Linked DNA regions of Homo sapiens: region 1 is linked to region 2. The links come from fine-mapping of genetic effects on gene expression. A gene starts in region 2. The other region holds a variant in brackets. All regions are shown on one strand. Distances are from middle to middle. Region 1 overlaps SPEN (spen family transcriptional repressor). Region 2 holds the start of ZBTB17 (zinc finger and BTB domain containing 17).

What was found. PIP is the estimated chance that this variant, and not a neighbour inherited with it, causes the effect.
Region 1: its variant is fine-mapped to the expression of ZBTB17 in whole blood (TOPMed, PIP above 0.99).

Annotation. Positions count from the first base shown.
Region 1 is chr1:15,936,353-15,951,287 of GRCh38, forward strand. SPEN (spen family transcriptional repressor) reads left to right here. Exons shown (of 15, transcript NM_015001.3): 12 at 811-1,293; 13 at 1,460-1,654; 14 at 2,366-2,524; 15 at 2,944-4,104. The coding sequence ends at 3,075. It overlaps ZBTB17 (zinc finger and BTB domain containing 17), which reads right to left. Exons shown (of 16, transcript NM_003443.3): 3 at 11,939-12,145; 4 at 10,583-10,771; 5 at 9,802-9,942; 6 at 9,363-9,488; 7 at 8,585-8,850; 8 at 8,345-8,487; 9 at 7,948-8,248; 10 at 7,456-7,543; 11 at 7,247-7,363; 12 at 7,047-7,167; 13 at 6,712-6,842; 14 at 6,177-6,386; 15 at 5,979-6,068; 16 at 5,517-5,900. The coding sequence starts at 12,143. The coding sequence ends at 5,617. It overlaps LOC124903855 (a long non-coding RNA gene), which reads left to right and starts at 13,579. Exons shown (of 3, transcript XR_007065486.1): 1 at 13,579-14,010. RefSeq lists enhancers at 5,772-6,971, 12,173-12,282, 12,883-13,052, 13,544-14,331, 14,751-14,800. The variant TTAAA/T (reference allele first, on the strand shown) is at 5,588.
Region 2 is chr1:15,967,513-15,982,447 of GRCh38, forward strand. ZBTB17 (zinc finger and BTB domain containing 17) reads right to left here and starts at 8,589. Exons shown (of 16, transcript NM_003443.3): 1 at 8,471-8,589; 2 at 5,527-5,613. It overlaps LOC124903855 (a long non-coding RNA gene), which reads left to right. Exons shown (of 3, transcript XR_007065486.1): 3 at 1-131. RefSeq lists enhancers at 7,453-7,562, 8,454-8,953 and silencers at 7,983-8,312, 8,353-8,452.

The DNA.
Region 1 (14,935 bases), 31 kb before region 2:
ATCAGGGGCCAGGTGTGGTGGCTTATGCCTGTAATCCCAGCACTGTGGGAGGCCCAGATGGGAGGACTGCTTAAGCCCGGGAGTTCGAGACCAGCCTGGGCAACATGGCAAAACCCCATCTCGTACAAAAAAAAAAAATTACAAAAATTAGCCAGGTGTGGTGGCACACACCTGTGGTTTCAGCTACCTGGGAGGCTGAGGTGGGAAAATTGCTTGAGCCCTGGAGGCAGAGGTTGCATTGAACCAAGGTCGTGCCACTAGGCTCCAGTGACAGAGCGAGACCCAGTCTCAAAAAAAAAAAAAGCCGGGCATAGTGGCTCACGCCTGTAATCCCAACACTTTGGGAGGCCAGGGCTGGCAGATCACTTGAGGTCAGGAGTTCAAGACCAGCTTGGCCAACATGGTGAAACTCTGTCCCTACTTAAAGAAAAAGAAATCCGCCTTTTGGTAAAGATAGTGGTTGAGTACAAGTGAACTGGTCAGCTAGTCCCTAAAGATGTTGATCTTTTCATGAGTTTAAAGAGCTTTCTTAGTTCTGAGATGAAAGTATTAGATCACATCATGGGGAGTTCTGCATATGGGGAGGGAGCTCTTGCTGGGTAGCATCAGCAGGAGGCAGGTAATAGGGGATCTCTCCTTACCTGGAACCCCGAAAGCAGCTCCGTTGATTCAGGCTCCTTCTGTGGGCCTGACTTAACGGGAGATGCCACATCTTATCCTTTCCCTGTGGCCCTTTGGGTCATTTGTTGGTCTCAGGGGCTTGTGCACAACAGACTGACTCTGTCCCTTTGCCTTCCTTCCCTACACCAGGGCCCTCCTCCTGAAGGTGAGCCCCTGCAGCCTCCTCAGCCTGTGCAGTCCACACAGCCTGCCCAGCCTGCACCACCCTGCCCGCCCTCCCAGCTCGGTCAGCCCGGCCAGCCACCAAGCAGCAAGATGCCTCAAGTGTCCCAGGAGGCAAAGGGGACCCAGACGGGAGTAGAGCAGCCTCGCCTCCCAGCTGGACCTGCAAACAGGCCACCTGAGCCTCACACCCAGGTTCAGAGGGCACAAGCAGAAACAGGCCCGACTTCCTTCCCCTCCCCTGTGTCTGTCTCCATGAAGCCTGACCTTCCAGTCTCTCTTCCCACTCAGACTGCCCCAAAACAGCCGTTGTTTGTCCCAACAACCTCTGGCCCCAGCACCCCACCAGGACTGGTTCTGCCACACACTGAATTCCAGCCAGCCCCCAAACAAGATTCCTCTCCACACCTGACTTCCCAGAGACCCGTGGATATGGTTCAACTTCTGAAGGTAAGCATGAGCAGGGGCTGCCCTTCCTGGCCCCCAAGTTTTATGCCATGTCAAATGTCCTAAGATTCCCTAGTTAACAGACCCACAAGCTACAGCCTCTGGCTGTGTCCAGCATGGCTCAGCGAGGGGCCATGAGCTCACTTCCTGTTTGTTTCCCTGTGAGCAGAAGTACCCCATCGTGTGGCAGGGCCTGCTGGCCCTCAAGAATGACACAGCTGCTGTGCAGCTCCACTTCGTCTCTGGCAACAACGTCCTGGCCCATCGGTCCCTGCCCCTTTCTGAAGGAGGGCCCCCACTAAGGATCGCCCAGAGGATGCGGCTGGAGGCAACGCAGCTGGAAGGGGTTGCCCGAAGGATGACGGTAAGACTCTCAGGCCCAGGTGAGCAACTGCCCCACCTACAGGGAGGAAGACGTAGGTAGTCCCTGCCAGCCCATCTCCCTGGCCTGTCATGGAAGCATTAACTGTATTCTTGTTGTTGTTGAAACAGTCTCTGTCGCCTGGGCTGGAGTGCAGCGGTGCGATCTCTGTTCATTATAGCCTCTGCCTCCCGGGTTCAAGCCATTCTCTTGCCTCAGCCTCCTGAGTAGCTGGGATTATAGGCACGCACCACCATGGCACCACCATGCCCAGCTAATTTTTTGTATTTTTAGTAGAGATGGGGTTTCACCATGTTGGCCAGGCCAGCCTTGAACTCCTGACCTCAAGTGATCTGGCTGCCTTGGCCTCCCAAAGTGCTGGGATTACAGGCCTGAGCCACTGTGCCTGGCCAGTAACGGTATTCTTGAAGTGAGCAATGAAGGGTCCACTATGCTTCTACTTGGTGGGGGGATGTAAAGTACCTCTAGACCCAGAAACAAGGCTTTACAGTTTTTAAAAATTATTATTTTTTAAATCAGCTTTCTCAGGTTGAAAAAAAGCTTTTTTTTTTTTTTTTTTTCATTCAAATATCAGGGTAGCCTTTAAAGTCATCTCAGAGGTGGGGGTTTTTGTGGACCTGATACTGTGGGTTGGATGTGGGCTGCTGTTTGACTAGGAGGCCCCTGCTCACTGGCAGCTGGCCTCTGCCTCAGGTGGAGACAGATTACTGTCTGCTGCTGGCTCTGCCCTGTGGCCGTGACCAAGAGGATGTTGTGAGCCAGACCGAGTCCCTCAAGGCTGCCTTCATCACTTACCTGCAGGCCAAGCAGGCGGCAGGGATCATCAACGTTCCCAACCCTGGCTCCAATCAGGTCGGTTGTCCTGTGTCCTTCCTTCACATGTACACCCACAGGTGGGGCTGATCAGGGTAGGTGGGCCTACTCATCTGGTGCCCACTAGATCTGGCCCCAGAGGTGGGCAAAGGGGCATTTTGGACAGAAGTCAGTAGAGCACATGGGGCGGGGCGCCATCACCCATCCTGAAGAGAACCCAGGGAACCGCTGAGAACACAGGTTTTCCATGAGTTTAAAGATAGGGCCCCAGGGGGTTCCTGTTTATAGTTTTCTGACACCTGCTAGGTCTTCCAGTAGACATAGTCCTGGCACATTTGCTGGTTGGGGACTGATTTGGCCTGGCTCTTAGCATTGGGCCTCTTCAGGGCTCCCCAATGGAAGTGGAGTTGTGGGGGTGAAGACAGACGGTCCCACTTTGCTCTCTATCCTGTCTCCAGCCTGCCTACGTGCTGCAGATCTTCCCGCCCTGTGAGTTCTCTGAGAGTCACCTGTCCCGCCTGGCCCCTGACCTCCTTGCCAGCATCTCCAACATCTCTCCCCACCTCATGATTGTCATTGCCTCCGTGTGAGCCACTGAGTGGTTATCACCTCAGTGAATCTTCCCAGGGCTCTGCAGTAAAAACAAAGGACAACCCAGCCAAGCAGAGGAAGAAGCTGCCGAAGGGGACAGACTCCACTGCCAGACGGCCAGCCGTTTGCTGTCCTGCCGCCCGGCTCAGTCGGCCAGACTTCCTCTAGGAGTGGTGCTGCTACCTTGTATGTTTACATAATGCTTTAGCCCAAGGACACATCACCAACCCATGGACTCGCAGACACCGGGGCTGGGTTTCTCTTTCCTCTTTTTGGAGAAAAGGAACAGGGCAGTGGAATGAAAATTTTTTGTTTGTTTGTTTTTAAGAAACAAGAAAACAGAACTGCCTTTGCACTAAATTAGTGACTTGGACTTTTGCCCAGTGAAGACAGGCTGTGACACTCTGGATGTCTTGGTGTGTGTAGACACACATTGCAGACTCTTAACGCAGGAAGGACTTCAAACTTCTGCTGAGACCTTGGGGTCAAGGAACATTTCATTGGTTTTTTTTGTCCACCCCCATCTCCCTTGCTCATTTGGATGCGTCACCTTAATTCTCCTGCTGCCACCGTCTTTGATTCACCGGGATGTACAGTTTACAGTTGAAGAGCAAACAGAAAGGTTTTCTCTTGGTGGGATATGCAGAACTTGGGATGTGTGTATATATAAATATATAATATATATAAATATATATAATACTGACTTAAAAAATCAAATCCCCCGACATACGTTTTTTTTAATCTGTGCCAAAAATGTGTTTTCAGAGGAAATCTTATTTTCATATTCAGACTTTGTATTGCCCACTCATTTGTATAAGTGCGCTTCGGTACAGCACGGGTCCTGCTCCCGCGATGTGGAAGTGTCACACGGCACCTGTACAAAAAGACTGGCTAACCCCTCTTCCTATTACCTTGATCTCTTCCCCCAACTTCCTAACACTTATTAATTTATGAAACTGTTTTTCTCAGCGCAGTTTTGTTTTGTGTGTCCATTGGATTACAAACTTTATTAAAAAATATAAAACACACCAAGTGTGAGTGTGATTGTCACTTGGGTGGGAGGACGAACCATGGGTCCTTGGCTTATGGGAACAGTCAGCCCTCATCCCGCTTTTGATCCCCATGCCAAGTCTGTACATGGGAACTGTTTCCCTTCTGCCTCCTAGTCAGTCAGTCCTCCTCCCCAAGGATAATTTTATCTTGTACAAAGGAGATTTTTGTCACGGACACTGAACTTAACCATTTCTCACTCTTGTGGTGTCTTCAGAGTCCTAACTGGTTCTTAGGTAATGTGGAAGGAAGGCACTTCCAATTTTGATACAGAATATAACCACACCCCATGCCATCTCAGAAACATTTTAGCAAGCTTTGGTTTCTTGTCTCTCTCTTGCCCCCTCTTCCCTTCTCCCAGTGTGAAGCAGGCTGACTCCTGCAGAGGCAGTGGCCTCCTGGGGCCCCTGGGGGCTCATTTGATCCCGTCTCTGCCTCCAGACAGGAGAATGGGAGTTGGGGACAGGCTTCCCCTGCAGCTGGATTCTCTAGAAGCTGTGGAGTTGGGACAGGGACATGGGGACTATAAAGTTGGTGGTCTCACTTGGAATACCAATGGGCTCCTACAAATGGGCCTGTCCTGGTGTGAGAAGATAGCATCCCCCTCTGAACGGTGGGCCATAGATGCCGGGGCCACTGTGGGGGGACGAGATGGTACCTCCTGACTCCTTGCTGACAGGAGTGAGAAAGCTGTTCCACCAGCTCCCTACCTCCCCATCAAAGCCCCTGGCTGCTCCTTCCTGTCCCTCTGGGCCCCCAGCCTGGTGGCAGAGATGCCATCTTTTGAACCTTCCCAAAAGATGATGGCACCGGCTTGGCCTTAGTCCTCGGGCCAGGTAACCCTGAAGCAAGTGTGGCTTCCATCTGCTCCCTTAGGCCCATCAGAGCCAGGGCAGTGGCCTGGGCCTGGCACTCTCCTTGGCCTACCTTGCCACTCTGGCTGGAAGGACCCCTGAGCCAGGCCTGGCAGCAGTGGCCTGTGAGCCAGGCTCGCTCTGGGTTGCCTGTACCCTGGTAAGCAGTTGGTGGCCGCCCCTGCTGGTCCCTTCCCCAACTTCCCAACCTCTCCCCAACCTGGGCCGAGGGGGAGCAGGGTCATAGCTGTGGGGCGAGGGGAGGCCAGGCCCTAAAGATGAACAGGTGAGAAGCCTCCAAACAAGATGGGATGAGGGCATGGGGCACGTGGTGCCGAGGTCTCTCCAGCCTGAGTGTACTGCCCACTCCTCAACTTGGGGCAAAGCAGCCAGCCTGGCTCTGATTCTAGTCGCATTCAGCAAGAGGGACGGGCTGACCTTCCCAGGAAGGCTGGTTCCTGGGTGGTACAGCCTTTCTGTGGCATCAGTTGTAGCTGCCAGCTCCCCACCCACCCCACAGGGACCTATAGGCAGCATTAGAAAATAATCCAATTTATTCTCTCTAGGGAACAGGCCACCCTTCCCGGTTCCAGGGTGCCATCCATCC[TTAAA/T]TAAACAGTCAGAAGGGCCGCCAGCTCACTCGGCAGGCGGGGGACATTCAGGAGCTGTAGGGGAGGTCTCTGCCAGTGCGGGCTGGCCCTCAGCCCCGTCGCGAGGGCGGAAGACCAGCTCCCCAGCCTGCAGCACCTGCCCGGCAGGCCACGTGCCACCTGGCCCATACTGCTGATAGAAGTCCGCGTCTGTCTGGAACATGACCAGTGCCTGGGCTGTGTGGATTCGCACATGCTGAGCCAGGCTGTTGGCATCCAGAAACTTGTCCCCACAGGAGTCACAGGCGTAGAGGATGTGAGTGTTGGGGTCTGTGGAGGTGGGGCAGCAGTCAGAGTGGGAAGGACCCCGGGCTCTGCCCACATTCACACCCGGGTGGCCCCCCTCACCTTCTTCCTGCACTTGCTTCACAGCTTTGCTGATCTCGGCCTTCAGGACTTCCGTCTCATCGGCTGTCACTGCAGCTCCCACCGGCACCACTGCGGGCAGAGTCGCAGGGCCTAAGGTGAAGGCACGGGCACTGCCCCATCATCGCCACCCTGGCAGCAAGCTGCCTGTGACTTCCCTCTGCTGCCCACAGCCCGCACCTGTGAGCTGAGTGACGGCTGTCGCTGCCAGTGCCTCGGTAGCCAGCGTGACCATGTCATCCACAGTGACCACGCTGACCTCACTGCCCTCCTCGGGCTCCAGGATCTTGATGCCTGCCTTGCCCTGGTGCACGGTCTTCACGTGGGAGCGCAGGTTGTCTACCCGGTTGAAGCCACGCCCACACTTATCACACAGGTAAGGCTTCTCTCCTGGGGGAGCAAGGTTCTCTCTTGCCTTTGTGGGAAGGGGCCGCAGGGATGGGGTGGGAGGCCCTCAATGACTCGTTTGCCCAGCAACCCTGTCTTTTACAGCAGGAGGTGCTCTGGGGTGGCTGCACGGGTGCCTCTGGTGACACTGGCACCTCTGGAAGCTCTAGGAAAATGGGGTCCTCATTTGAACAGAACTGCCTTCAAGGCCACCTGCAGCAAGAGCTAGCACCCGAGGCTGGGGTCTGGGGGGTCCCTTCCTTCCCCCTGCTCCCCACCTGGCAGCAGGGCCTGGGAAGGAACAGGCATGGTAGGGGCCACAGCTCACCAGTGTGAATGATGATGTGCTTGGACAGGTCCCCCACGTTCACGAAGGCCTTGCTGCACACGCTGCACTTGTGTGGGCGGATGTTGTCGTGGTGGCGAATATGATTGGCCAACTGGCTGGACTGGACGAATCTGTGGGGCCACAGGAAGGGACTCGCATGGAACTGCCCCAACCTGGGCCTCCTGCCTCACCCTCTAGACTGAAAAGGACCCCTAGGACCAGAGCCTGGGGCGTGGGCAGCAGTCAGCTCAGTCCCCAGCCAAGCCCCCAGTTTGTCTTCTGAGCCCCCTCACTGTGGGGTGTCTGGCCAGTGGGTGTGGGGGAGGGGGCAGGACCTCTTGCCGCAGCGCTCGCAGACGTAGGGCTTCTCCCCGGTGTGCTGGCGCACGTGGGCGATGAGGGAGCTGGCCTGGGTGAAGGCCTTACCGCACATCACACACTGGCATGGCTTCTCACCTGGGGACCGGGCAGAAGGTGTTGGTGCCTGCTCCTCTCCGTGCCCTCCCAGTCCTGGGCATGGCCGCTCACCACCCACCTGTGTGAATGCGGACGTGCCGCTGCAGAGCGCCGGGGTCTGCAAACTGTCGCTGGCAGTGGATGCACACGTAGGGCTTCTCCCCGCTGTGGATCCGAAGGTGCCGCTTCAGGTTCCCTGTGGCGAGACCGAGGGCGAACCTGGCGTGGGGCACCACCGGTGGCCGAGGAGCAGGGGTGTGAGGGCAGCCAGGGCAGCCCTGGCCCTACCTGAGGTGGTGAACTGCTTCCCACACTCTCGGCACTTGAGGGGCCCGTCAGCGATGTGGATCTTCAGGTGGGCCTTCAGGTTCCCTACCTGTGCCCAGGGAGGGGTCAGGGGGGCCACCCCACAGAGCTCGGCCCCGGGCCCCCTCACCTGCCCCTCCCACAAAGGAACAATTGACTCTCAGGCTTGCCAGGGTCCGTGAAGGGCTCTATCTCTCCTGGGTCAGGAGAGGTCCCAGGTCCCAGCGGTGAGAGGTAAGCCGCCCCACCCCATTTTTTCAGGACCAAACCCCGCCCTGAGTCGGCCTGCCCTCCGCAGAGCAACCGGGAGCTCCCCCGCGGAAGTGGCTCTCGCTGCGCCTGTTTCCTGGGTGAACAAGCTGATGAGCTCCTGGAGGCCGGGGCTGTGCTCCCCGCCCGCCCCACCACGTGGCATGCATGCGGCTGCGGCCACCGGCGGCTGCCAGGCGCTGGTTCCGGGAGGGGTCCGCACACCTGGTTGAACTTCTTGTCGCAGTGTGGGCACTTGTGCTCCTTGTCCGTGTCGTGGGTCTCCAGGTGGCGCATCTTGGAAGTGGGGTCGGAGAAGGAGCGGCCGCAGTAGTCGCACTGGTAGGGCTTCTCGCCGCTGTGCACCAGCTGGTGGCGCTTGAGGTTGCCCGAGGTGGTGAAGAGCTTGCCGCAGTCCTCGCAGCGGTAGCGCGCCTCGCCCGAGTGCCGCTTCTTGTGCAGGTTCAGCAGGCTGATGAGGCGGTAGCTCTTCCCGCACTCCTCGCAGCCGTAGGGCTTCAGAGGGCTGCAGGGCCAGAAGGCGACAGGAGGCAGGGCTCGCTGGGGCGTGAAAGGCCGGGCCTGGCAGGGGCCGGGGTAGGAGGCCGGCTTGGGGCAGTACCTGTGCGTCTTCTCATGGGCCTTGCACGCGGCCGGGTCGGAAAAGGCCTTGCTGCACTCCCGGCACGAGAAGGGCTTCTCCCCCGTGTGGATGCGGATGTGCCGCTTGAAGTTCCCCGTGTGCGTGAACTCCTTCCCACAGTCCTGTGGGTGCAGCGGGGAAGCGGGGTGTGAGGAGCAGCCGGTGGGAGGCCGGAGGGGAGGGACGCTGGCTGGGAGGGCTGGCCATAGTCTCCCTCACCTCGCACTTGTGGATGACGGAGCCGTAGGCCTTGGACTCCGTGCGGTCGCCGTAGGTGCCTGAGCGCAGGCCCCGGGCCTCGGAGCCGAGCTCCTGCCCCGAGTCTGTGCCCGCTGACTCCTCATTCTCGTTCTCCTCGGGGGCCTCTCCGTTCTCCAGCTGGGAACCCTCCTCCTTGACCTCAGCTGGCCCTGCGCCCTCCTCCTCTTGCTCCTCTTGCTCCTTTTGCTCCTCTTCCCCTTTCCGGGCGGGCTCCACCTCCATTTCTGCGGAGAAAAGGGCAAGCATGGAGGCGGCAGCCCTCTCTGCCTGAGCGCACGTGAGGGGCGCCGGCAACATGTGGAAGGGACAGTAAATGGCCCCAGCACTGGCCAAGGAAAGCCCCCGGGGGGGCCTGTGAACTGGGTATTTGCTGCTTGCGGGATGCAGGTAGGGGGCTTAGCCAGCTGGGGTGGGCGCTGTCGGCCAGCAGGCACTGGAGGGTTGCCGTGGGTGGCAAGGCACCCCTGCACGGTGCTGAAAGCCGGGAAGCAGCAGAAGCTCCAGGGCTTTGAAGGACGTGCCTGTGCTCACAGACACACGGCTAGCATGGTCAACCAAGGAACGACCTCGAGACTCAAGAACATGCGAAGACCAAGGTGTCCCAAAGCTGAAGTGCATGGTGACTCCAGGTGGGACTAGCTGGAGGCAGGAGGAGAGGGAGGCCCCAGTGCGCAGTGGAGGCAGGGCCCTGGGAGGATGCACCAGGTAGGGCCTGGTCCTGGCTGGGCGGGGCTACCTTGCTCCGAGCTCTCGGACAAAGCGGCCTCAGCTTCTGCAGCAGCCATGCCACTCGTGGGGTCTGGCTTGAGCTCCACAGGCGGCGGCTCCCGGGGCGCATCGGCTTTCTCTGTCTGCTCTGCACCTGGGTGGGGGAAGCACCGGAGGCTGGATTGCTACCCTCTGCCCAGGGGTCGGATACCTCTCCTGGACCAGCGCGCTGGTGGTGGCTGCGTGTGACCCAGGAGGGGAGGCCCCAGCACACCCCTAGCCAAGGCTGTTGTGTCTGCTCTGGTTGAAACAGACCCCCTGGAACACACAATAGGTCATTCTGGGTAACACAGGCTCAAGAGGTGCAGGTGCCCGTGCTACCTGCCCCAAGGCAGCCCTCACTACCCTGTGCCCAGGCTGCTGGGAGGTGACAGGACAGCCGGCTGGGTCCTTGGCATCTGACTCACCGCTGGCCGCACTCTGGGCCTGACCGCCGCGCTCCTCCTTGAGGTCCCTGCTGGGGCCTATGGGTGTGCTGCGTCCTGCCTGCTCCAGCCTGCTCAGCGTGCTGGTGGCCACCTTCTCCTCTTTGGCTCTCTTGTCCCCTCCTGGAGATGGAACAGGGCAGACCTGCCGTTTCCCATCAAGTGCCCGCCATCTGGAGGTGTGAGGTGGCCCAGAACTTGCTAGGTCTTCCTCGTCCTCCCTAGGGTACCTCTAAGTAGTGGTTTGCTGATTTGTTCATTCACCAAATTATTCACAGGGCACCCACTCCATGCCAGGCTGATGGCTGGGCACTGGGAATACAACAGTGATGGTTCCTGCTTGTGTGGGACATGCAGACCCCATGTGTGCACTAAGGGAGCTGATCAGAGGTCAGCACTAGGAAAGGGAGGAACGCAGCCTCTGGAAGTCTACAGCAAGGCACCTGGCCCATAGTGGGCATCTGAGGGCTTTTATCTTAGCAGCTAAGGGAAGTGGAAGGAGGGGCTCAGGAGAACAGACCCGCAGGAGGGTTTAGGAGCCTGCCCGTGTGCAAAGGCACTGAACCAGGCACGGCTCCCGGGTGCTCTGTAGGGGAAAGGCAGGCAGAGAGGCCACCCTCAGACCTGAGGCTAACCCTTGCCAGCACCCACAACCGAGGCAGGGCCAGATGAGGAAACTGAGACCCAGAAAGTCAGAGGCAGAGCCCACATCAAAAGCCAAGGTCTCTGGCCATCTGCTTGGGAGCAGCTGCCAATAACCTACCTTCTGTGGCCAAGGCCTCCGCATTTCCCCCAGGGCTGGTAGCCGGCTCAGCAAGTGACTTGAGGGCATGGCAGGCCGTGATGATGTCCTGCATTTGGAGGAAAGTGGCCACGGCCAGCACATCATCCACGTTCTCAGGGCTCAGGCTCAGCTTGGCCGTGTACATAAACTCCAGCACCTGCCCCAGGCCTACCAAGGACAGGACAGCTGTCACAGACCCACCTCAAGATCCGGCACCGGCAGCCTGCCCCACCACTCCACTCAGCAGCAGGACGCAGGGATTTAGGAACAGCTGAGTGGCAAGCCTGCATCGCCCCATCTCCTCTGTGGAGAGGAGGCAGGTAACCTGGGGGATCTCAGCACTACCAACAGCCCTTGAAAAGAAGTGCTCGCTGAGGGTCTGAATGCCTGCCCTGCACAGAGAACAAAAGGTGTGAACGCCCACCCTGCACAGAGGACAGGAGGTGTGAATGCCCACACTGCACAGGGAACAGAAGGTGCAACTGTCCGCCCTGCATGGAGGAGGATGGGCTGTGAATGCCGCCCATGCATGGAGAAAAGGAGGTGTGAATATGCACCCTGCACAGAGGACGGGGGTATAAATGCCCATCCTGCAGGGAGGACAGAGTGTGAATGCCTGCCCTGGATGAGGACAGAGGTGTGAATGCCCACCCTGCATTGAGGACGGATGTTGTGAACACCTGCCCTCCACACCCTCTTATTTGGCCGCTACACTTCACCAGTGGAGGACACTCCAACCTGACTTTCATCAGGGCTCTGCTACCAACTCTCTATCTGACTGACCTCCAGGCCAGTCACTGACCTCTTTGGGTCTCAGTTTCCACATCTATAAAATGGGAGAATAATACCTTCTCATGGCATGTCACGTCAGTCTGGGTTGGGAGTCTGAATCCAGGACCAGTTCCTTCCACAACCCCAAGGTCTTCCTGACACTGCTCCCAGCCCCTAGGCCTTCCCCATCACCTCTCCCCACGCTTCTAGTTAGCACTGGGGTAGATGCTTCAGGACTGACTCTGCCACGGAAAGGGGCCAGAGGGCATAGAGCCTGCCTACTCTCTGCCCCTCCCAATGAGGCCTTTCCTGTGTTCACTGCGGCCTAGAGCTCATCATGAGCCCTTCCTGCCCGTTCTCCCCTTACCACTCCACTACCAATCAAAACAGGCCCCCAAAAGGTGGGAGGAACTTAGTACTGAATTGCTCATGGCCTGAAGCCTGTGCGGGAGGCCTGTTGCATCCCACAGCCTGCAGGTGCTGCCCCTGGAGGGCCTAGCATGGCACAGGGCCGGCCATAGCTTCTGGCTATCAGCAAGCTCAGCCCCAGCCCTGACGGGGTACCTGCCGCGTTACTGATGTCCAGGTGCACCACGTCCTTCTGGTCCACGAAGAGCATCTTGAAGTACTCGCTGCAGGCCGCCAGCACTGCTTTATGAGCCTTAAAGTGAACACCGTCCACCACAAAGGTGCAGTCACAGAGAAGCCCCAGCTGCCGCTGCTGGTTCAGCTGTTCCAAGACATGCTGGCTGTGCTGGGGAAAGTCCATGGCTGAAGAAAGCCAAAGGGCGTTGGGGTTAGCACGGAGAAAGGACGTCAGACACGCTCAACAGTCACTCCTAAAGTCCCAGGCGAGCACCATGGAGAAGACAGAATTAAAACAAGTGAGGGCATTTCTGCCACAAAAGGGCAGTTCAGTCCAGATACCCCCTGCAAGCCAAACTCAACCAACTGGTGGCTCCTGTATTCCTGGGTTTACTGTCCAGGAAAAGTGGCCCAAACCAAAAAGCACTGGGGCACCAACACGAGGCAGCCGCCTCCGTATTCAGCCTGATAATAACATGAAAAAGCCAAAAAAGGGAACAAATACAGAACACTGAAATGTGTCATCATTTCAAAAATGAAACGACATGGTCACTTTAACATTTGTTACAAAAAGAATGCATGACAATCTCAGAATAAAGGACAGATGTTTCAATTGGACATGTTGGTCTTTAAGAAAACTTTCCTATTTTCTCATTCTCTCATGGACAGGTGAAGACAAGACGGTGTTTCATCAGCCAGTGTTGCAGAACTCGGCCCCTCTCAGGCTCTGCACGTACCCCATCCCCCGACAAAGCCTAGCTCTCCCTCTCTTTCTGATTCATGGGAACTACCTAGAGTTGCGGAGTCTTCTGACTCCAGAAACCTGTGTCCTGGTGGCCATCCCAGGAGAAACAACTTTGATCCTGACCCCAAGAGCTGCTGACCTGGCCACAACTTCTCTGTCAAGGGCCTCACTTAATGCCTGGAAATCCCACAAGTGAAAATGCTCAGGAAAATTCCATGGCCCAGTGCCGAGCAGTCTTGAACCGCACAAGCCGTGACTAAGTAACTATCTAAAACAGCTCTCCCTCCCGCCCCAACACCACCCAGAGTGGGCGTCAACATCAGCAATTGTCTAGGGAAAATAAGCGGGCCCTCTTTTCTAGAAAGAACCCATTTCAGAATGTTTGAAGAGAAAAATCAACACCCACTGTCTGGGGCCACATTAGACAGATTCAACTGGGCACGGCTGTCACGCCCTGGCCCAGGATCTGCTAAGGGGTAGTGAGTTCTCTGCCTACTCCTCCTCTTCTCTGAGGCCTGAGTCTGCACGGGGCTGGCTCCCCGGCTTCTGGGCAGGTGAGAGGGACACTTTGGGGCTCTCCGCCCCCAGTTTCGGCAGCTCTGCCCCGGCTCAGGCACTCCCCTGTGACATCAGCATCTTGGGGGGTGAATCACTGCCGCAGCTCTGAAGCTGCTGTGGCCATGCATGGCTGTCGGGCTGTGATGAGTCCGGAGGAAGCCACGCCCCTCACACCAGCACAGGTCGGCCTTGAAGGGCGCCAAGGCCTCCCACCACGTGATGTCTGGAAACTTTTCACAAGTGGGGGTATCTGCTGAGCGGGGGGAAGTGACGCAACAAATAACGGGGAGCATGGCAGTGGCAACAGGCATGAGCCACAGCGCACCAGCCTCCGAGCCACAAGTTCAGCGTTGCTGCTGCTGCCAGAGGCCCAGAAACAGCTGTTCCCTCCCCCTACACATCCCCGCGCAGGCTTTGGCTCTCTCAATGACATTCCTAAATGGCTGTGGCTAGAGCCCTAAGTGTAAGCACTGGAGAGCCAGGGCCAGCCCCGAAATCAGGAGGTAAGGCCCTGGGGCAGCTGGCCCCGCACCAAGTGCACCAAGTGGCTGGCAGCAGCACACGGCCACCTGGAGCAAAGCACAGAGGCCTTTCTCTCCTGTCCTCAGTCCCTGGAAGCAGCAGGTTCCTATCTGTGACCTGAAGGAACGCAAGGGAGAATCGTGGCTGCGCTGCTCCTATGCACTGGACATGGGGAGGCACCAATGTCCAGCTTGTGGATCAAGACCTGAAGGGCACAAAGGGCAAGGTGGGTGCAGAAGGAACCAAAGGCAGGGGCGAGGTGGGCCCAGGCCACGGCAACCCTAGAGCTGTCTTCTCCTGGCTGTGGAAAAGGTCACGTGAGCACACAGGTGTGTGGGTGGCAAGCCCTGGGCCTCAATTGCTAGTCACCCCCTACATACCCAGGAGCCCCAAGTGCAGAAGAGGGGAATACCAGGGCCCACACAGGGCAAAATCCTCAACTGGCTTCAGAAGCAGCCCATCTGGAACTTGCAAGTGAGGCCCAACCCTTCTCTCCAGGCTGTGTGCCTGGCTTCCTCACCTTCCCCAGGAGCCAACCCGAAACTTGAGCCACCCAGGTGCTAAAACAACCTGGGGAGCATCAGCTGAACCCCCAGAGGTACAAAGAACCCTCTAGCAGGAAAACCATCTGACTTGCCGGGAAGAGACATGTGAGGAGACTCCTAGCCAAGGGGAGGGACAGGATCAATCCCCTTGTGTGGGCCCAAGGCTGGGATGAGCCTCCCTGTGGCCATGTGCCCTGGGGCTTCCTGGCAAGCGCAGCCCCGCCCAGCCATACAGCTGTCCTGGGACTGGATGGATGGATGGATGGGTAAGCTAGATAGATTAGATAAGACACATTCGCTAGATAATAAAATAGTAAAGGCCCCAAGGACAGGGTGGGTGGTGGCCCAGCCCCCCACATACCACCACCCGCCAAGAGAGCAGCTGTGTGCCCATGAGCAACATTTTCCACCGTGCTGACTGCACTTTTCCAATGCAAGATGCCCGCCCAGAAGTGGGCTCCTCCCACACACGGGTGTTAGGAGGAGAAACAGAGGCGTCTATAATCCTCTGAGGCTGCCCCAGCAGAGAAACGCACCAAAAGGGAAGAAAACAGGAGAAATGATAAGAAGGGGGGAGGAAGAAGTGAAGATGGGCAAAGTAAGGGA
Region 2 (14,935 bases):
TACCAAAAAAAAAAAAAGTTTCCTGGGAGGAGAGGGGGGTAACTTACTTTCCACAGGTACACGCTTGAGAACCTTCTGATTTTTCTACCTTGTGCATGCATTCCCATAGTAAATGTTGTTTTCTTCCTAAACTCTGCATATTTTCTTTTTTGACCCTCAAGAGTCTTCTATCAAATAACAGTAATTATGGAGCCAGGGACTCGACTAAGCACTTTACATGCATGACCTTATTAATAATTCCACCCAATAAAGTTATATTCAAGGTAACTATTATCCACATTTTACAACTGAGGAAACTGAGGGTTAGAAAGGTCAAGTACTTTGCCCAAGGGCATACAGCTAGTAATTATAAGAAGCAAACATAAGCCCACATACGCCTGGCTTAGGAGTTTGTGTTCCTAACTGCTACCCTATACTGCAGGGGTTTCTTAACTGGGGGTGATTTTGTGCCAGGAGATATTTGGCAATATCTGGAGACATTCTGGGGTGTCACCACTGGAGAAGAGTTACCACTGGCATCTATGGGGAGAGGCCAGAGACGCTACAGAAACCCACCCCCCACAACAAAGACTTATCTGGCCCCAAATGTCAGAAGTGTCAAGGTTGAGAAACCCTGCTATACTGGAACAAGACAAAAAGACAGAGAAACCATCTTCTGACCAAAACTCTCACAGTTAAGGTCAGAGTTCACCATGTCTATTTCCCATATGACAGCCAAATGCCCAATAAACAAGAAGCATGCTCAGCCCTCAATTACATGGAGTTTTCTCCAGCCCCAAATGCCAGTTCCTCCTCAGCCAATCAAGGCTGATCATCCACTCATCCGACACTTGCTGAGCGCCAGCTGTGTGCCAGGAAACAAGCTACACAGTGGCAGTACCAGGATAAATAAGACCCTGTCCTGCATCCAAGATGCTGGCGGTCTCATGGGAAGGCAGGCAAGGAAGCCTCGGATCATAATTGAGGTGAAAATGTGTTAATAGAGATCAAAAACAGGATGCTAAGAAGTCGCAGGGGAGGGGCTCCAAACTCACTTGGGTTGGGGGAACTGGGAATGGCTCAGAAAAGGCTTCCCAGAAGCATCTGAACTTGAAGGAATTAAACAGGCAGAGAGAATCCTCAAAACACCCCTTACCAGATCTCTCAGGATATGGTCTCTGAGTAGCCAAGGTTTGATGACTTTAATTAGAAAGCTTGGGGGAACTCTCCCAGAAAACAGAAGGGGCACAGAGTAGTCCTTGACTGTCCATGCACAACCTGGATAGCCCCTGCCACAGGGCAGGATGGCAACCTGGCGTCCCCACAGGTTTGGGCCTTCCTCAACTTCAAACCTGACTGGCCTCCAGCTTCCAACCAGCCTGTACCTTGCAGCAGGAGGTAAGTAACATTTCATAAATGTCCACTATACCAGGGGTTCCCAACCCCTGGGCCACAAACCACTGCTGGTCCGTGGCCTGTTAGGAAGTGGGCTACATGGCAGGTGAGTGGCGGGCGAGTGAGCACGCAAGTGAGCGAAGCTTCAACCTGTATTTACAGCCGCTCCCCATCACTTGCCATTACCACCTAAGCTCCGCTTCCTGTCAGATCAGCAGCAGCATTAGATACTCACAGGAGCTCAATCCCTATTGTGAGCTGCACATGTGAAGGATCTAGGTTGTGAGCTTCTCATGAAAATCTAATGCCTGATGATCTGTCACTGTCTTCCATCAACCCCAGATGGGATCGTCTAGTTGCAGGAAAAGCAGCTCAGGACTCCCACTGACTCTACATGATGGTGAGTTGTACAATTATTTCATTATATATTACAATGTAATAGTAATAGAAATAAAGTACATAATAAATGTAAGGTGTTTAAGTCAACCTGAAACCACCTCCCACCCCCCACCCCTCAGCCCCCTTTCTGTGATAAAATTGTCTCCTACAAAACCGGTCCCTGGTGCCAAAAAGGTTGGGGGCTGCGGGCCATGCCACGGCTGGTGGTCCTAGGTGCACGGGGGCCGAGGGGGCACGAGGCAGTAGTGTGGGGACTCCAGGTCCCAGAGGCCGCTCATGGGGTGGGAAGTGTGAGGCCGCTGCCTGCCTGGGCCTCGGAGGGTGGGGGGAGCAGGGCAGGGAGATGATAAATTGACCATTATCTCAGGATGTCTCTTTCTGACTGCCAATATCTTCGCCATCGCCAGCATCACCAACCCAGACTGGCTCAACACCAGGGAGTCTGTGGGAGCACTCACTGTGGGCCTCATGGGACAGTGTCAAACAATGCGTGGACGAGAGGGGATGTGCATCCCTCCCCAGCTTCCCCTGGAGTGGGTCACCATGCTGTTTTTTATCATCATGGGAATCATTTCATTGACTGTAAAATTCCCCTTAGACAGACGGAGGCAGCTAGGACTCTGGAGTCAGGTGTGAATCTGCCCTCCCATTGATTGTCACATGTGGTTTGCTGGTGGCTTCCCACTGGGGAAGAGAAGCTACAAAATATGTTCGATGGATAGCATTCACTGGGATGATGCTTTTCTGTATGGCTGCCGTCATATTTCCAATAGGATTTTACATCAATGAAGTCAGAGGTCAACCTTATAAATTACCCAACACCACAGTAGTTGGGTCATCATATGTACCTTTTGTCTTATCAATTTCTTTACAATAGTAGGACTTCTATTTGCTGCCAAGTTTATTTGCCAAGCTGATAAATGTCTAAATTGCTTGACTCTCACTTATTTTTGAAGGGTGAGGAGGACAAAGGCGAGACATCTGAGCAGCCCTCATGGGAAGATGCTCACATGAAACTGATGCTGAGAAGGAAAAATAAAAAAAGTTTTGATTTGCTCTCACTATGCACTTTGGACTTAAAGAAGAAAAAAAAAAAAAAGGAAGAGCCTTTTTGTTTTATTTTTGAGACAGAGTCTCACTCTGTCACCTAAGCTAGAATGCAGTGGCGTGATCTCAGCTCACTGCAACCTCCGCCTCCCGGGTTCTCCTGCCTCAGCCTCCCGAGTAGCTGGGACTACAGGCACCCACCACCACACCCAGCTAATTTTTTTTTTTTCTCTTGAGATGGAGTCTCGTTCTGTCACCCAGGCTGGAGTGCAGTGGCGTGATCTCGGCTCACTGCAACCTCCGCTTCCCAGGTTCAAGTGATTCTCTTGCCTCAGACTCCTGAGTAGCTGGGATTACAGGCGCCTGCCACTGCGCCCAGCTAATTTTTGTATTTTTAGTAGAGACGGAGTTTCACCATGTTAGCCAGGATGGTCTCGATCTCCTGACCTCGTGATCCACCCACCTCAGCCTCCCAAAGTGCTGGGATTACAGGCGTAAGCCACCGCGCCCAGCCAGGAGAGCCTTTTCCATAACCAAATACAGACAATACTGACTAAATCTCCTGAGCATATTCAGGCAGTCAGGTCTGCACTGTGATAGCAACCTAGAGAAGGAGAATGCTTTCTACTGAAAAGCATGTGGCCCTTTGTGACTCTGTTGTTCCATTTTTAATATCTAATGATTCAATAGAGGGAAAAAAAAAGTCTAAGTAGTTATGTATCATGGTGGACCAGAGGGATGCAAGAGAAGTTCATGTGGGGCTGGCCTCACCTCCTGAGAAATCAGTGTTCACAACTTCCTTGTAATAGTATGAGCCTTTGGCACCATTACTGCACCAAGAAGCCAATAGATCAAAACTTGTTTGCTAAAATGTATGTAAAAATTCTGAAATTCCCTATTCTGTGTGTATGAAAAAAAAAAATCAAACACTAAGACACATGTTTTGGGTAGGTAGGTGGGTGGGTGGGGGAAATCTCTCTCTCTCTCTGTATGTGTGTATGTATATATATATATGTACATACACACACAATATATATATATACACACACTATATATATATACACACTATATATATACACACACACTATATATATATACACACACACTATATATATACACACACACTATATATACACACACACTATATATATACACACACTATATATATATACACACACACTATATATATACACACACACTATATATATACACACACACTATATATATACACACACACTATATATATATACACACACACTATATATATACACTATATATATAAAATATATATTTTGCTGACAGAAAAAAAAAAACGAAAAGGTTGGGGAGTGCTGCACTATGCAGCAAACCCTGTGAATTACCTGCCTGACCTCATGTAATTCTCCAGACAATTCTGTGAATTACCTGCCTGTCCTCATGTAATTCTCCAAACAATTCTGTCATCCCTATTTTACAGATGAGGAAACTGAGGCTCAGCAATGAAACTGAGTAAAAGGCTTGCTGTCTGATGTGTCAGAAGACAATCTTGTGATTAGGAAAATTAATAGTCATTACTTTTTTTTTTTTTAACTCTTTGGGACACAGTTTCAGAAGGAACTGACTGTCAGGACACAGAGCCACTCAACGGGAGGGCAGATTCACACCTGACCCCAGAGTCCTAGCTGCCTCTACCTGTCCAAGGGGAATTTTACAGTGATCAGTCCAAAATGCGCGGTTTGCAACATCTTCACCCCCTCAGGAAAGCCTTCCAGCGCCAGTGCATCCTCCCTGTGTGCGCACACCCTCCACCAGCCCTCCAAGGTATTTCCTGCATTGCATTGTGAGGATACACATGGCTGGGAGCACCTGCTCCCGGGATTCAGTCTTACTTGTGCCAGCATCCCTAGCACCCAGCACAATGCCTGACACATGTTGGGCACAGAAACAATGAATGGATAAACAAGCCTGGCCTCCCTGGGCCCAAGCCCTGTAAACCTACCCAAAGCCAGAGCAGCCTGCCTTGGGGACTCAGTGGACCTCCCCTCAGGCTGGGATCACACCCCCAAGAGAGTAATCCAGACAGACTGAGGACAGAGCAGGTTCTCTCAGCCAGCTTTTTCTCCAGCACTGAAACAGTCACAATCTGTTCTTTAGCTGTGCACCAGATGCAGGAACTGGCTTATGTTTGGGAACCATGTTGCACAAAAATCCCACCTTAAACATTAGAACTTTAAAAGGAATGAGTGTGTGCTCGCTGCTCTGTGTCCCTTTTTGCCCTAGGGAGATCATACATGATGGCAGGAGCTACAGCAGCCAGCTTGGACCATGAGATGGAAGCCTAAGTTTGAGCAAGAAAAGCCACATTATCAAAGGAATCCTGCTCCCAGATGATCTCACAGAACACAGCAAGCTGTGCTACCAGCTCTGGACTGTGTACTTCCAGAATGTTAAGGAGCAAGGAATAAACTTCTGTTTCCACCACTGTAGATTTCACCTAACTAAAGGCGTGAGCATTGCCCAGTGATCATCCACTCTGGCCTCTCTCTGCAGGTAAAACAATAATAGTAAGATCAACAATTTCCCAACCAAACTGTAACTGGGATTTTGTCATTACTATATAATTTTGAAGAAAAGGCTATCAGGAAAGAATCATTTGAATCATGTTGAACCTAGAGAAAAAGGACAAACTGATCTGATTTGTTTCATCCTTGAGTATTACAGACATACCTCAGATTTCCAGACAGCCCAGGCTACTCTTTTCTGACAGTTTGCCTGTGTAAACTCCAGCTTGGCTCCCCTCGTCCGGCTCATTACCTGAATCAATGACACACAAGTGGAAAATCTGATGAGAACCTAAAGGGTACCTGCTCCCTCAGAGCTGCCTTTTCATGCATCCATCAAACATAGACAAATACAGAGTGCTTAGCACAGAGCCTGGCCCAAGGAAGTGCTGAATAAATGGCCTGCTCTGTGCCAGATAGCATGCTGACACTGGGACACAAAGATGCACAGACTCAGCCTCAGGCCCTGCTCTCAAGAACTCCAGCTCAATAAGAGACAGGACACAATGTTAAGAAGGAAAAACGACAAGGTTTGTATCCAAGCATTACTGCAGCATTGGCACTGCTCTGGGATATCCTGGACACTTTGTTTCTCATTGCATACCCTACCCTAGGTGAGCTCATCCCCTCCCATGACTTCAGTGACCTTTGATGGTGATAACTACTAGCTGAACAGGTGCACTTGAATGTTTTACAGGCATCCAACTCCAACATGTTCAAAACTAAACATATCTGCCCTCCCCCAGATCTGCTCCCCGTACTGCTCCCTATCACATGGAGCAGCATCCAACACCCATCAGTCAAAAACTGGGGTGATCCTGACTCCTCCCTGCCCCTAACTCTCATCAAACTAATCACCAAATTGTGTCAATTCTATCGCTAAAACCATCTCTCCTCACTCTCTGCCTTTAACTCACACCTTTATTTCTCACTTGGATTATTCTAGCAGGCTCTTAATTGGCCTACAGGCCCACTCCCTTTGATACATTCTTCACTTAGCCAGAGTGATCTTCCTAATCCACAAATCTGATTCGTGGCCAGGCATGGTTGCACATGCCTATAATCCCAGTACTTTGGGAGGCTGAGGCGGGAGGATCATTTGAGGCCAAGAGTTCGAGACCAGTCTGGGCAACATAGTGAGACCCCATCTCTACTAAAAATTTAAAAAATTAGCCAGGTGTTATGGTGCACGCCTGTAGTCCCAGCTAGTTGGGAGGCTGAGGCAGAAGGATCACTTGAGTTCAGATCAAGGCTGCAGTGAACTATGATTATGCTGCCACTGCACTCCAGCCTGGGTGACAGAGCAAGACGTAGTCTCAAAAAAAAAAAACAAAAACAAAAACAAAAAAAACCTGATTCTTTTATTTCAGGCTGGAAATAAAAGAATCCTCCCACCTCAGCCTTCCAAGAAGCTGGGACCACCAGAGGTGTACTCCACCATGCCCGGCTATTTTTTTTTTCCTTTTTTTTTTTTTTTCTTTTAATAAAGATGGGGTCTTGCCATGTTGCCCAGGCTTGTCTCAAACTCCTGGGCTCAAATGATCATCCCACGTTGGCCTCCCAAAGTGCTAGAATTACAGAGTAAGCCACCGCACCTGGCCACAGATCTGATTCTTAAATGGCTTCCCATTAACCTAAAGTTTAAAGTCCTTAACTAGGTTTACAACGTCCCCTAAGACCAGACCACAGCTTGCTGCTGCTTTTTTTTTTTTTCTTTTTTGAGACGGAATCTCGCTCTGTCGCCCAGGCTGGAGTGCAGTGGCGCCGTTTCGGCTCACTGCAACCTCCGCCTCCTGCGTTCGAGCGATTCTCATACCTCAGCCTCCTGAGCAGCTGGGACTACAGGCGCGCGCAAGCACGACCGGCTAATTTTTGTATTTTTAGTAGAGACGGGGGTTTCACCATATTGGCCAGGCTGGTCTCGAACTCCTGACCTCAAGTGATCTGCCCGCCTGGGCCTCCCAAAGTGCTGAGATTACAAGCGTGAGACAACGAGCCCGGCCCAGTCTGCTTCTTTATTTAGCCTGATCTCTCTCTCCTCTCTCTACGAAGATGAGTTTTCTCACAAACTACACCCTTAACTGGGAATACCCGTTTTCCTGCCTCACTCCGCTGAGCTTCCCTTAGATCTTAGCTTTCTGGGGGACAGAAGCCTCCCGGGATTCCCCCTAGGCTGAGTGATGTGTCTCTACTCCGTGCTTCAGAGGAAGGAGGGCTTTCTGCCCTCGCAGCAGTATCAGAATTGCTGATTTACCTGTATGTCTCCCACATGGGTCTCTGAGCTCTGGGTGACAATGGTGATACAATTAATAACAGCAACAAACACACAGCATTTACTTTGTACCCATAAGTGTTCTAGGAGCCTCATTTCCCCTTTATTACAATCTTAGGAGGCTGATTTTATTATCATCTCTGCTTAAAGGATGAATAAACCCAGGCAGAGAGAAAAAGCCAAAAGTGCCTAAGGTCACAGCAGGGAATGGGGATTCAAACCCCGCTGCTGGGCTCCACGGTTCACACTCCTAACTCCAGGATCGAGGATCCTGGAGGATCGAGTCCGCCCGCATCACTCGCTCTAGCTTCACCATCTATCAGGTGCTGAACCACCGTCCGCAGTACGAATGAATGAATGAAATGCTTTTATACAGGGACAGCGTCGGCCTCCTCTGTCAGCTCCTCCTAGGCCCGGGCAGCCCCGCTCCCTCCCGCCCCGGCCGGCCGACAGGAGCTGCCCCGGCACTGCGCTCCCTCGCGGCCGCAGAACGCCCACCCTCGACAGCGCGCGGGGTCAAGGGGCGGTGACAGCCGTGCGGCGGGGGCGGAGATGCTACCAGCTGGGGTGTCATCCAGCCCGGGAGGTGACACGCGCCCCCTCGCCCGGGCGGTCGCCTGGCCGCCCACTCCCCGCCAGCACGCCCGGCGACGCCCCCCGCCCCGCCACCCCACAATCTCCCGCCCAGCGGTGTCCCCTCAGCCCCGGTTGGCGTCCCATTCCACTTCCCTCCCCTCCCCCACACAACCGTCACCGGCGTCCCACCGCGCCCCATCCTCCGCCGCCTCCGCCCCGGCTCCCGGGACTTCCCCGGCCCCGGGCGATTGTTGACACTCACCTGCCATGTCCCGGACCCCACCGCAGAGGGAGGTGCATCACGGCCGCGAGAAGGCCGGGGACGGCACTCCAGAGCAGACAAAGGGCGCCGCCATGTTAGAGTCGGGCGGAACCGACCTCGCAGGCTTCCCGGCTGCAACTTCCGGCGCATGCGCAGCGTCCTCGCTAGGAGAGCGCCCATAGACAGACGCATGCGCCTAGCTATCCAAAAGTTCCACCTTACAGTACTTCGGCGCTCAGAGTTGTCCTCATTGTACCCCTGCCTTGGTTTCTCTTCCAAATATAACAGTAACATCATGTGTTCAGCTCTTACTGTGTGCCAGGCACTGTGTTAAGCGCTTTACATGCATTATCTCTTTAAATCCTCACACCAATTATAAGATAGTATTATTCTCCTAATTTTAAAAAAGGGAAAACAGACTCAAAAAGTGTAAATCAATGTCCATGGTCACATATCTTGTAAGTGGTGGACCGGAGATATGAATCTACTTGTGGCTTCAAAGCTGCAGATCCCAGTTGTGTTTTTCTACCTTCTAAACCGAACATTATCCCCTTCCCTGATTGTCTTGGACGTGAATAAAGGTGTCTGAAAACAAAAGTGTCTGCAGACTTGCATGGCCCCTCCGTGGCCCCTCTTCTACCTTTTTGGTAGCTCTAGGCCACTGACTTCTCCACTTTCTCACAGTCTGAGGGCTTTCTCCTTTGTTTACTTCTAGGCCTGCATATTTTCCATAATCTATAATTTTAACAACACTCTTGCCACTACTGTAAGCTCTTTTGCCCCCTTGCCTTTTTGTCACATGGATTTGGTAAGAATACCAACGCTGTGTGAATCCAAATGCACCTTTTCTCTTTGTTAGCTCCCAAACAGCCAAGCACAGCTGAAGAAAGTATGCAGTGGGGAGACTGTTCCCTAGAGATTCATGTCCACTAGCCTTCAGTGGGATGCAACATATGCCAATCTGGCAACTCACTCCTGTCTTCACAATGGCTAGAGAAACAAAAAAGCCCAGCAGTTGACTTCACCCCTTCTTGTCTTTAGGTTTTTTTTTTTTTTTTGGAGACAGAGTCTCACTCTGTCTTCCAGGCTGGAGTGCAGTGGCGCTGTCTCGGTTCACTGCAAGCTCCGCCTCCCGGGTTCACGCCATTCTCCTGTCTCAGCCTCCAGAGTAGCTGGGACTACAGGCGCCCGCCACAACACCTGGCTAATTTTTTGTATTTTTAGTAGAGACGGGGTTTCACCATGTTAGCCAGGATGGTCTCGATCTTCTGACCTCGTGATCCACCTGCCTCAGCCTCCCAAAGTGCTGGGATTACAGGCGTGAGCCGCCGTGCCCGGCCGTCTTTCTTTTCTTTCTTTTTTTTTTTTTTAGATGGGGTCTCGCTATGTTGCCCGGCTGGACTGAAACCCCTAGGCTTAAGCATCCCATTTCAACCTCCCCAGTAGCTGAGACTACAGGCATGTGCACCCACAACTGGCTAACTTCACCCGTTCTTTTTAACTATATTTTTAATTTTTATTTCAGTAGTTTTTGGGGAACACATGGTGTTTGGTTACATGGATAAGTTCTTTAGTGATGATTTCTGTGATTTTGGGGGACCCATGACCTGAACAGTGTACATTCTACCCAAGGTGTAGTCTTTTTTTTTTTTTTTTTTTTTTTTTGAGATGGAGTCTTGCTCTGTTGCCCAGGCTGGAGTGCAGTGGCGCCATCTGGGCTCACTGCAAGTTCCGCCTCCCAGGTTCACGCCATTCTCCTGACTCAGCCTCCCGAGTAGCTGGGACTACAGGCGCCCGCCACCATGCCCGGCTAATTTTTTGTATTTTTAGTAGAGACGGGGTTTCACCGTGTTAGCCAGGATGGTCTGGATGTCCTGACCTCGTGATCCGCCCGCCTCGGCCTCCCAAAGTGCTGGGATTGCAGGCGTGAGCCACTGCGCCCAGCCAACCCAAAGTGTAGTCTTTTATCCCTCACCCCTCCCACCTTTCCCCCTGAGTTCCCAAAGTCCATTGTGTCATTCTTATGCCTTTGCGTCCTCATAGCTTAGCTCCCACCTAAAAGTGAGAGCATATGATATTTGGTTTTCCATTCCTGAGTTACTTCATTTAGAATAATGGTCTCTAGCTCCATCCATGTTGCTGCAAATGCCATTATTTCATTCCTTTTTATGGCTGAGTAGTATTCCATGTTATATATATATACCACATTTTCTTTATCCACTCGTGCATTGATGGGCATTTGAGATGGTTCTATATGTTTGCAATTGTGAACTGTGCTGCTACAAACATGCGTGTGGAAGTGTATTTTTCATATAATGACTTATTTTCCTCTCTGTAGATACCCGCTAGTGGGATTGCTGGATCTAATGGCAGATTTACTTTTAGTTCTTTAAGGAACATCCATATTGTTTTCCATAGTGGTTGTGCTAGTTTACATTCCCACCAGCAGTGCAAAAGTGTTCCCTTTTCACCACAACCATGTCAACATCTATCATTTTTTCATTTTTGATTGTGGCCATTCATGCAGGAGTAGGTATGGCATTATGGTTTTGATTTGCATTTGCCTGATGATTAGTGATATTGAGCATTTTTTCACGTTTGTTGGCCATTTGTGTATCTTCTTTTAAGAACTGTCGGGCCGGGCGCGGTGGCTCACGCCTGTAATCCCAGCACTTTGGGAGGCCGAAGTGGGCAGATAGCCTGAGGTCAGGAGTTCGAGACCAGCCTGGTCAACATGGCGAAACCTCGTCTCTACTAAAAAATCAAAAAAATAAAAATAAAAAAAATAGCCAGCATCGTGGTGGGCACCTGTAGTACCAAGCTACTCAAGAGGCTGAGGCAGGGAGAATTGCTTGATCCTGAGGCTGCAGTGAGCTAAGATTGTGCCACTGCACTCCAGCCTGGGCGACAGTGTGAGACTCTGTCTCAAAAAAAAAAAAATAAGAATTGTCTGTTCATGTCCTTAGCATGTGACTTTTTAATAGGATTATTTGCTTTTTTCTTGCTGATTTGTTTGAGTTCCTTGTAGATTCTGGGTATTAGTTCTTTGTTGGATGCATAGTTTGTGAAAATTTTCTCCCACTCTGTGGGTTGTCTGTTTACTCTGCTGATTATTTATTTTGCTGTGCAGAAACTTTTTAGTTTAATTAGGTCCCATTTATTTATATTCATTTTTGTTGCATTTGCTTTTGGGTTCTTAGTCATAAAGTCTTCGCCTAAGCCAATGTCCAGAAGAGTTTTTCCAATGTTGTCTTCTAGAATTTTTGTGGTTTCAGGTCTTAGATTTCAGTCTTTGATCTATCTTGAGTTGATATTTGTATAAGGTGAGAGATGAGGATACAGTTTCATTCTTCTACGTGTGGCTTGCCAATTATCCCAGTACCATTTACTGAATAGGGTGCCCCTCCCCCCTTTATATTTTTGTTTGCTTTGTTGAAGATCCATTGGATATAAGTATTTGGCTTTATTTCTGGGTTCTCTATTCTGTTCGTTTGGTCTATGTACCTATTTTATTCCAGTACCGTGCTGTTTTGGGGACTATAGCCTTGTAGTATAGTTTGAAGTTGGGTAATGTGATGCTCCCAGATTTGTTCTTTTTGCTTAGTTTTGCTTTGGATATGCAGGCCCCTTTTTGGTTCCATACTTCCCCATTTCTTAAAAAAATTTTTTTTAAATCATAGTAAGAAAACTTAATATGAGAGCTGTCCTCTTAAGAATTTGTTCTTTCTCTTCAACTTTTATTTTAAGTTCAAAGGTACATGTGCAGGAGGTGCAGGTTTGTTACATAGGTGGTAATATATGACCCATGTTTACTTTAGGTTGAACTAATGTTTGGACTTAACATTTAAATGTATTACAGGCCAGGTGTGGTGGCTCATGCCTGTAATCCCAGCACTTTGGGAGGCCAAGGCAGGAGGATCGCTTGAGACTGGGAATTGGAGACAAGCCTGGGCAACATAATGAGACTCCCCCTCATCTCTACTAAAAATAAAAGCTTAGCTGGGTATAGTAATGCATACCTGTAATCCCAGCTACTTGGGAGGCTGAGGCAGGAGGATCACTTCAGCCCAGGAGTTCGGGGCTGCAGTGAGCTATGATTGTGCCACTGCATTCCAGCCTGGGTGACAAACCAAGACCCTGTCTCTAAAAAAAATTTTAAATAAATGTATTACAATTAGGCCCTATATGTCAAAAGGTCTTTTCAGGGCACAAAAGCATTCAAGTGCACAGCCTCTGTAAACTGTCCAGGACCAGTCCCTGGTTGGTGGTCTTCTTAGCTGGAGAAAGTTATCGAAATCACCTTCTTTGTCCAAAGCTGTAGTTACGGCTGGTGGAACAGGAGTTCCAGTTGGCCTCTGTGAGCTGAATGAGTCGTAATTGTCTTAATACTGTTTATCTCGAGGCAAGTAGTCGTTTAGCTGCTAGAGAAAAAGAAAAACCTTGTGGCAATTGAACATAGTTTATTTTTTAAGGTAGGAGTGCACGGCTGAACCCTTGCGTGGCACAGCCTTAGGTCCTGTCTATAATTTGGGATGTTATTGCCACAGTCTGTTCTGTCAGTCTTATTGTCTCTATTTTAACTTTAATGCTCATCAGTTGTTATGTCTAAAATACAAATAGGGCCGGGCATGGTGGCTCACACATGTAATCCCAGCACTTTGGGAGGCTGAGGCGGATGGATCGCTTGAGGTCAGGAGTTCGAGATCAGCCTGGCCAACATGGTGAAACTCTGTCTCTACTAAAAATACAAAAATTAGCTGGGCGTGGTGGTGTGTGTCTGTAATCCCAGCTACTCGGGAGGCTGAGGCAGGAGAATCTCTTGAACCCGGGAGGTGGAGGTTGCAGTGAGCCAAGATTGCGGCACTGCACTTCAGCCTGGGCGACAGAGCAAGATGCTGTCTCAAAATAAATAAATAAATAAATAAATAAATAAATAAATAAATAAATAGATAGATAGATAGATAAAAGTAATAAGTATATCAAGGTGTGTTGTTTTAGTCTGTTCTCACGCTGCTAATAAAGGCATACCCAAGACTGGGTAATGTGTAAAGGAAAGAGGTTTAGTTGACTCACAATTCAGCATGACTGGGGAGGCCTCAGGCAACTTCCAATCATGGTGGAAGGGGAAGCAAACACATCCTTCTTCACATGGCAGCAGCAAGAAGGAGAATGAGCAAAAGGAGGAAAAGCCCCTTATAAAACCATCAGAAAGGCTGGGAGTTGTGGTTCATGCCTGTAATCCCAGAAATTTGGGAGGCCAAAGCAGGTGGATCACTTGAGGTCAGGAGTTCCAGGCCAACATACTGAAACTCCATCTCTAGTAAAAATAGTGAGTCTCCGTCTAAAACAAAAACAAAAACAAAACAAAACATCAGATATCCTGAGAACTTACTCTCACTCACTATCCTGAGAACAGCAGCATGGGGGTAATCACCCCCATGATTCAATCACCTCCCACCGGGTCCCTCCCACAACACGTGGGGTTTATGGAAACTACAATTCAAGATGAGATTTGGGTGGGGACACAACCAAATCATATCACGTGTCTAACCTCCCACCCTGTTGTAGCTGGGAACTCAGTCTCTAAGGTTTTTCTGGGGTCCCCTTAGCCAAAAGGAGGTCCGTTCAGTCGGTGGGGGACTTGGGATTTTATTTTTAGTTTACAGTGGAATCATGCTGGATTTGTCCTTCTGTACTGGCTTATTTCACATAGCACAATGTCCTTAAGGTTTATCACTGTTGTCAAATTTTGCAGAATTTCTTTTTTAAAGGCTGAATAATATTCTATCTTATGTATATACCGTATTTGGTTTAACCATTTGTCTGTCAGTGGACCCTTGGTTGGGTTGTTTCCACATTTTGGCTATTGTGAATAAATGCTACAATGAACAGTGGAGCACGAATATCTCTCCAAGGTCCTGATTTCAATTCTTTAGATAAAGACCCAGAAGTGGGATTTCTGGATCCTATGGTGGTTCTATTTTTAATTTTTTGAGGAATCCCCATATACCGTTCTTCATAGTGGCTGCACCATTTTGCATTCCACCAACAGTACACAAAGGTTCCAATTTTTCCACATCCTTACCAACACTTGTATTTCACCTCTTCTTTTACAGGGAGAATAATAGCAGATCTGTTAGGAACCTTCTTGTCTTCCCAATATTAAGCATACAAATCTATCCCCGGGTCTATCTGTGTTAGATGTGATCAATCAGGACTCAGCATCCATTCTTTCCAGAATCTAAAACGCTAAAAATGTATTTCCGCCTGGCGTGGTGGCTCACGCCTGTAATCCCAGCACTTTGGGAGGCCGAGGCAGGTGGATCACCTGAGGTCGGGAGTTTGAGACCAGCCTGACCAACATGGAGAAACACTGTCTCTACTAAAAATTAAAAATTAGCTGAGTGTGGTGGCGCATGCCTGTAATCCTAGCTACTCAGGAGGCTGAGGCAGGAGAATCGCTTG